Linked DNA regions of Homo sapiens. The protein of the gene in region 1 purifies or fractionates together with the protein of each later gene. This does not show direct contact. Each region holds a gene or a part of one and is shown on either strand. Other genes may lie near its edges.

Region 1 (4,056 bases):
GCCTGGGGTGGGGCCTGAGACTGTACATTTCAAATATGCAACCAGGTGATGTCAATGCTGCTGGTTCCTCCTGGCCAGCACTTTGAGTCCTAAAGGACTAGACAATCCCCCAGTACAGATAACTCAACAGCATCATGGCCTCAATGCAAGCCCACTTGATGATGGGCTCCCCTTGGCCAAACCACTGGGGCTTCTTTGGTTGTAGCAGCAGGACAGTGGGCAGTGTGGTAGCTGTGCCCAGATCTAGGTGGGGCAACAAAGTGGAGGGCCCTGGGTGAAGGTGGATAGCAAGCTGATGACTCCCACTCTGGGTCAGTGTCAGCTCAAAGAGCTGGAAGAAATTCAATGCTGGTCCAGTCCAGCTGGATCCCATGGGCCCTAGAAACCTCCCATTCTGGCACAGCCAAAATGTACAGTGTCTTTCCCAAAGGCTCCCCTATTCGGCTCCCTCCGCCTGGGTTCTGATAGATTGTGATGAAGTGAGTAAGGGTAGGAAGCTAGCGTCTGGTCCATCAGAGAGCCTGGGTCTTGGTGCTGAACCTCTGCTGTGTGCCAAGCCCCTCCCAGTGTGCCACATGCCTCACCCCCAAAGCTTCCCCTCCCTATTTTCCTCAAATGACTTTTCACTGAACTTCAGTCTATATCCCTCTTTTCTTCCTCTCATTTCTCCCTGGACATGGCATCTGGCTCTCAGACCTCCGCAATTCACCTGTCCTGGCTCAAACACTGCCATCAGCTAAACTTGGGCTTTCCCCATGTTCTTTTGCACAGCACCCTGTCCTATCCTTCATCATTCTCCTGCACAGTATCTATGTGGGATGTTCTGTCCAAGACCAATATTAACTTCTGTGGAGCAAGATCCAGAGATTCTTTTGATTCCTTTGATATTTAGTCATTGCCTCCTTGGAACCCTTGACATTGAATGACTCCCTTCACACCTCTTTCTCCCACTGTAGATTTCACCTCCTTCTGGGGCCACCCCTAAGGCTAACAAGGTCCTAAGCACTTCTATTTCACATCATATTAAGCTGCAATTCATTGACTTCTACAGCTGCAATGATTATCTTGGGCTAATGGCTCCCAAATGTAGACTGCACATCCCACTTTACCTCCTGCAGCCTACAGGACAGCCCACTTTGGACATCCTGCTGATATCCAACCAAATATATTTAAGGTTAAGTTAATTATCTTCTCCTCCCAGCCCACACATTCCTCCCAATTTCATTTCTCTCACTGTCATAATATTCCTCTCACCAGTGATATTCAAAACCTGAGACTCATTGACAATATCTCCTACTTCTCCTGACTCAGTGTCTAACTTATCAAGTCCCTACAGGTTATTTCTTTAAAATATAACTTTGTGTTTTTAATTGCCATTACTACTGTACTTGTATTCCCGGTTTTTCTGCCTTTCATTCATTCCAACCTATGTGAGGAATGTGGACCCACGTTCTAAAGATTTTTTTCACCACATCCCTGCCCAGCTCTAGAATCTACAGTGACTGACTGTTTTGTCACCGTCTGGCACTGATTTTCTTGTGTGATAGCATCTCACTTCTCCATGGACACTAAACCACACCTCCTGGCGACATAATTCCTTTCTTATCTTCTCAGTGGACGTACTCACAGGTGTCCCATTGTTCTCCCTGCCTCAAAAGTCATCCCTTCTCATTGTCATCCATTCAGATCTTTTGATATTAAGATCACTGGAGATAGTATCAGTATAGATGGGTTCAGTATCTAGTTCTATCAAATTAATTACCAGTGTAGAGTTACAGCTTAGACATACAGGGTTATGTCTTTTAACCTCCAACCCTCAGTTTCAGCACTATACATTCATGGGATTAGATTATGTGGTTATGAAGGTTCTTTCTAGGCCAAACTATTTATAATTCCATGACTCAGAGTTTAATGAATCTTTCCCTTACTATTGTAACTCTACTCTGAACTCCTATTAAATTTTACTGTATTATTTATTGTTGTACATAAAGATATTTGTTTCCCTTATAAAAGTTTATAAGATCTTGAAGTCATGAAGCATGGCTTACAGCTCACTTGAAGCTCTCTCCAACCACCCTAATTGAACTACCCTGGTCCTTGTGGCCAGGACATAGAAACACACAGAGCAGACTTTGAATAGAAAGGCTGAGTCCTAGACCTAGCTCTGCTACCAATTTATTTTGCCACCTTTTATCCCTGGGCCTTCAACTTATCAACATTGGATGGAAAGATTGAGTAAGGTATCTTTCAAAACTGTTTTAAGTTTCACAATAAAATTTTATGCAGAATTCTAATGATTGTAAAAAGGATAAAGGGCAGCTGCTTTGCTGACACAGGAAGCAATGGAGACTTTGGAACCCTGCTAGTATTTCTCTTGCCTACAAAGAAGACACTGAGGAGCTACCAAGGAGCACAAAAAAAAAAAAAACGAAAACAAAAAATCTCTTAAGCTTCCACCAAACACGGTTTGAATACCATTGGCCCAGATGGTTTCTTTTGAGATTACTTTCTAAAGTCAGTTGTTCTAAGTAGTTCAGAAATCTTGATTTGGCTTAACCTATTCCTTCTCCTCAAATCTCTTTATGTGCTCCTAAATGTTTTTGATGTCCCATCATGTCATATGAGGGGACTACCTTGTTACCTAGACAGCTTGCCAGGAGGAGTGAAGGGATAGAGGGCATACCAGAGATATTGACAGGAGAGAGTAGAAAAGAAAGAAAAGAGAGAGAGAATATTGCCTGTCCATCACTGACCTGCAGATCCTGAGTTCCTGGAACCCTGATCCCTGGAGACTCCAACTGATTTCTCCAGGGCATTGCGCTGTGTTTATACCGTCTGGTACAGGTGGGTCAGGCCTGCACCAATCTCTATAATTGGCTGCAGGACATGAAGGAAGAAGAGCCTGGGCATTTCACAATGTCTTTGGTACAGCATGAATAATAAGATGGTGGGAACATTAAGGAGCATTTGTTGAAGGGGGAGAGAGTCATCCATAAAGCCTTGGCAGAAATAAGGTATGGGGCCCCTGCTCTGTACTGACTGTCGTTGACTATGTTATTAGTGGGTTTGCAGCCAGATAAACAGTGCTGGGGTCAGACATCTTTGGTGCCCCGTGGGGCTCCATCCTAGGCTTGAAGAGGTGGTGAATACAAGAGAAAGTATGTCTGGCAAGCCCAAGGACAGAACAAATTCTGATGCCGGAATCCAGGCTGTGGCCAGACAGCCAGAATAAGAGAAGGGGCTGATAGCACTGTGAGTGTGACTCTGTTTGGAAAGACGAGAAGGGAGTCTCTGCTTTTCAGTGGGTTTAATTAGTTGGTACCAGCTTGATGGGACAGAACATCTAGGGAAACCCAACTGCAAAGATATTGACCTCAGATTCACCCTGAGACTGAGCAGACATCATGTGCCATGGACTGCTAGGAAATATGATAGTGTGAGTAGAGCACAGAGGAAAGAACACTCAGGTCTCTAATTGACATTACTTGACTCAGTCCATCCATCCATCCATCCACCCGGCCACCCATCTGTCCATCTATCTACCCATCTGTCCATTCTTCCATCCATCCATCATCCATCCAACCATCCATCCACCCATGTGCCCATCCATCCACCCTTCTGTCCACCCTTTCATCCATCCATTCATCCATCCATCCATCCATCCATCCATCCATCCCTCCATTACAAGCGTGGAGAAGCTTAGGTGTAATGTTCTCTGGAAACTAACAACCTTATTATAATTCTCCCTCTTTGGTCATTTGCAAAGTTCCACCAAGGGCTTCTTGAGGAAGTGGGATAGGTGGGTCTAAGACTCAGATGCCTGCAGGATGAGAAATGAGAAAAGATGGGCAGAAATGGGACCAGATTTCTGCTTTCTAAGGCCAGTGATCATTCTTCTTCCACTCTCCCAATCTCTCACCCTTCTATGGGAAGGCTTAAAGCATGAGTTACTATGTCAGGCAACCAATGAGTGTTTACCCAGCATTTACACTGCTGTGTGACACAGACATTCAATACACAGTCCTTGTTGTTAAGTAGTTTCACAGTCTAGCTGAG
Region 2 (3,500 bases), on another chromosome or scaffold:
CCACCTCGGCCTCCCAAAGTGCTGGGATTACACAGGTGAGCCACCACGCCTGGCCAGTGCACTACATTCTTGAACTCCTACACTCAAGGAATCCTCCTGCCTCAGTCTCCTGAGTAGCTGGGACAACAGGCTTGTGTTAACACACCCGACCACATTTGATCTTTTACAAAATTTTCTTAAGCTGATAAGCAACTTCAGCAAAGTCTCAGGATACAAAATCAATGCACAAAAATCACAAGCATTCTTATACACCAATAACAGACAAACAGAGAGTCAAATCATGAGTGAACTCCCATTCACAATTGCTTCAAAGAGAATAAAATACTTAGGAATCCAACTTAAAAAGGACGTGAAGGACCTCTTCAAGGAGAACTACAAACCACTGCTCAATGAAATAAAAAAGGATACAAACAAATGGAAGAACATTCCATGCTCATGGGTAGGAAGAATCAATATCGTGAAAATGGCCATACTGCCCAAGGTAATTTATAGATTCAATGCCATCCCCATCAAGCTACCAATGACTTTCTTCACAGAATTGGAAAAAACTACTTTAAAGTTCATATGGAACCAAAAAAAAAACCCGCATCGCCAAGTCAATCCTAAGCCAAAAGAACAAAGCTGGAGGCATCACGCTACTTGACTTCAAACTATACTACAAGGCTACAGTAACCAAAACAGCATGGTACTGGTACCAAAACAGAGATATAGATCAATGGAACAGAACAGAGCCCTCAGAAATAACGCCGCATATCTACAACTATCTGATCTTTGACAAACCTGACAAAAACAAGCAATGGGGAAAGGATTCTCTATTTAATAAATGGTGCTGGGAAAACTGGCTAGCCATATGCAGAAAGCTGAAAGTGGATCCCTTCCTTACACCTTATACCAAAATTAATTCAAGATGGATTAAAGACTTAAACGTTAGACCTAAAACCATAAAAACCCTAGAAGAAAACCTAGGCATTACCATTCAGGACATAGGCATGGGAAAGGACTTCATGTCTAAAACACCAAAAGCAATGGCAACAGAAGCCAAAATTGACAAATGGGATCTAATTAAACTAAAGAGCTTCTGCACAGCAAAAGAAACTACCATCAGAGTGAACAGGCAACCTACAAAATGGGAGAAAATTTTCACAACCTACTCATCTGACAAAGGGCTAATATCCAGAATCTACAATGAACTCAAACAAATTTACAAGAAAAAAACAAACAACCCCATCAAAAAGTGGGCAAAGGACATGAACAGACACTTCTCAAAAGAAGACATTTATGCAGCCAAAAGACACATGAAAAAATGCTCGTCATCACTGGCCATCAGAGAAATGCAAATCAAAACCACAATGAGATACCATCTCACACCAGTTAGAATGGCAATCATTAAAAAGTCAGGAAACAACAGGTGCTGGAGAGGATGTGGAGAAATAGGAACACTTTTACACTGGTGGTGGGACTGTAAACTAGTTCAACCATTGTGGAAGTCAGTGTGGCGATTCCTCAGGGATCTAGAACTAGAAATACCATTTGACCCAGCCATCCCATTACTGGGTATATACCCAAAGGACTACAAATCATGCTGCTATAAAGACACATGCACACGTATGTTTACTGTGGCACTATTCACAATAGCAAAGACTTGGAACCAACCCAAATGTCCAACAGTGATAGACTGGATTAAGAAAATGTGGCACATATACACCATGGAATACTATGCAGCCATAAAAAATGATGAGTTCATGTCCTTTGTAGGGACATGGATGAAATTGGAAATCATCATTCTCAGTAAACTATCGCAAGGACAAAAAACCAAACACCACATGTTCTCACTCATAGATGGGAATTGAACAATGAGAACACATGGACACAGGAAGGGAACATCACACTCTGGGGACTGTTGTGGGGCGGGGGGAGGGGGGAGGGATAGCATTAGGAGATATACCTAATGCTAAATGATGAGTTAATGGGTGCAGCACACCAGCATGGCACATGTATACATATGTAACTAAGCTGCACATTGTGCACATGTACCCTAAAACTTAAAGTATAATAATAATAATAATAATAAAAGAAATTTCACTATACTTTTTCTTTGTTTAGGTACGTTTACACAAATACTTACCATTGTGTCAGAACTGTGCACAGTATTCAGCACAGTCACGTGCAGTACAGGTTTGTAGCCTAGGAGCAACAGGTTATATTATCTAGCTGAGGCATATGGTAGGCTCTACCATCTAGGTTTGTGTAAGTACACCCCAGGATATTTGTCCAATGTCACATTTCTCAGACCGTCTAGGTTTGTCTAAGTACACCCCAGGATATTTGTCTAACGTCACATTTCTCAGAATGTATCTCCAATGTTAAGTGATGTATGACTGTATCTGCATTATACTTACTGCTTGAGCATCCCAAATCCAAAAAGCTCCAATGAGCATTTCCTCTGAGTGTCATGTCAGCACCCACTTTTAAAGTTTTGAATTTGGGAGCATTTCAGATTTCAGATTTTTGGATTGGAATGCTCAACTCGTACTTATTTGACACAGATATAAAACTACTGCTTACACAAAAACTGTTGGTTCACTGTGAGGTTTAAGGCTGGTTCACTTTTTGGACACAACGATGATCTTTCATAGTTAAAACAAGCTTATATAATAATTTATCAATTAGTTACTAAGAGCAGTCTCTGGAAAGAATTTTACTAGGCCACTTATTATGACCTTAAACTATTTAACCCCTCTGTGCCTCAGTTTCTTCATCAGAAAAACAGGGATAATATGGTACCACCCACATTCAGCATTGTGTATAAATCAGTTAATACATGAAATTCCATCAAACAACACCTACACACACAGTGAGCATTATTTACATAATTCCTGCTACTATCCTTATTTTTTACTTTGTGCTGTGCAAGGCTAATAATTTTAGGCAAAACAATGTGCCCAAAAAATGTTTGTTAAAAACTCACCATCTTGAATAACTTCTTCATCAGAATCTCCTTTTGTCTTTGTATATTCTAGAGTATAAGAAAGGCCATTACAGCCCCTGGTTCGGACACCAACTTTTACACCTACCTGAAAAAGAAGTGAAAATATAAACTTGGTTTTAAAGTAGTACAGATTAAACAATTATACTAATAAAGTGACAGTAGCCTCCTCGTACCAAAATGGACTTTCTCTTATTTTTTGTAGGACAGGGTCTCACTATGTAGCCCAGACTGGTCTCAAACTCGTGGACTCAAATAACGCTTCCACCTCGGCCTCTCAAAGCATTGGGATTACAAGGCAGGAGCCACCCCGTCCAGCCTGGGACTTTATTTAAAATGTCTTTGCTCTACCTTGTTCTGTGAGATATCCTCTGAATGTTTCCTTATGGTTAGGATTCACCAGGGTTCATAGTCCACCATCTGGCAATCCTACCTCTACATGGGATCTGAATTATAGTGCAGACTTGTGTACAGTCTCAAATACCAGAAAGCAAAAGACTGCAGTCAATACAGA

The links. Proteins that work in one complex are often made in the same cells at the same time.
Region 2: the proteins of IL1F10 (region 1) and ISCA1 purify together in Homo sapiens (affinity purification with mass spectrometry; one large-scale study listed by BioGRID and IntAct). This does not show direct contact.

Annotation. Positions count from the first base shown.
Region 1 is NC_000002.12:113,066,714-113,070,769, reverse strand, and holds the start of IL1F10 (interleukin-1 family member 10), read right to left. Parts: upstream 2,801-4,056; 5' UTR 2,754-2,800; intron 1-2,753. UniProt on the Homo sapiens protein: Cytokine with immunomodulatory activity. Alone, does not induce cytokine production, but reduces IL22 and IL17A production by T-cells in response to heat-killed Candida albicans. Reduces IL36G-induced production of IL8 by peripheral blood mononuclear cells.
Region 2 is NC_000009.12:86,269,039-86,272,538, forward strand, and holds part of ISCA1 (iron-sulfur cluster assembly 1 homolog, mitochondrial precursor), read right to left. Parts: intron 3,075-3,500; coding exon 2,969-3,074; intron 1-2,968. UniProt on the Homo sapiens protein: Involved in the maturation of mitochondrial 4Fe-4S proteins functioning late in the iron-sulfur cluster assembly pathway. Probably involved in the binding of an intermediate of Fe/S cluster assembly.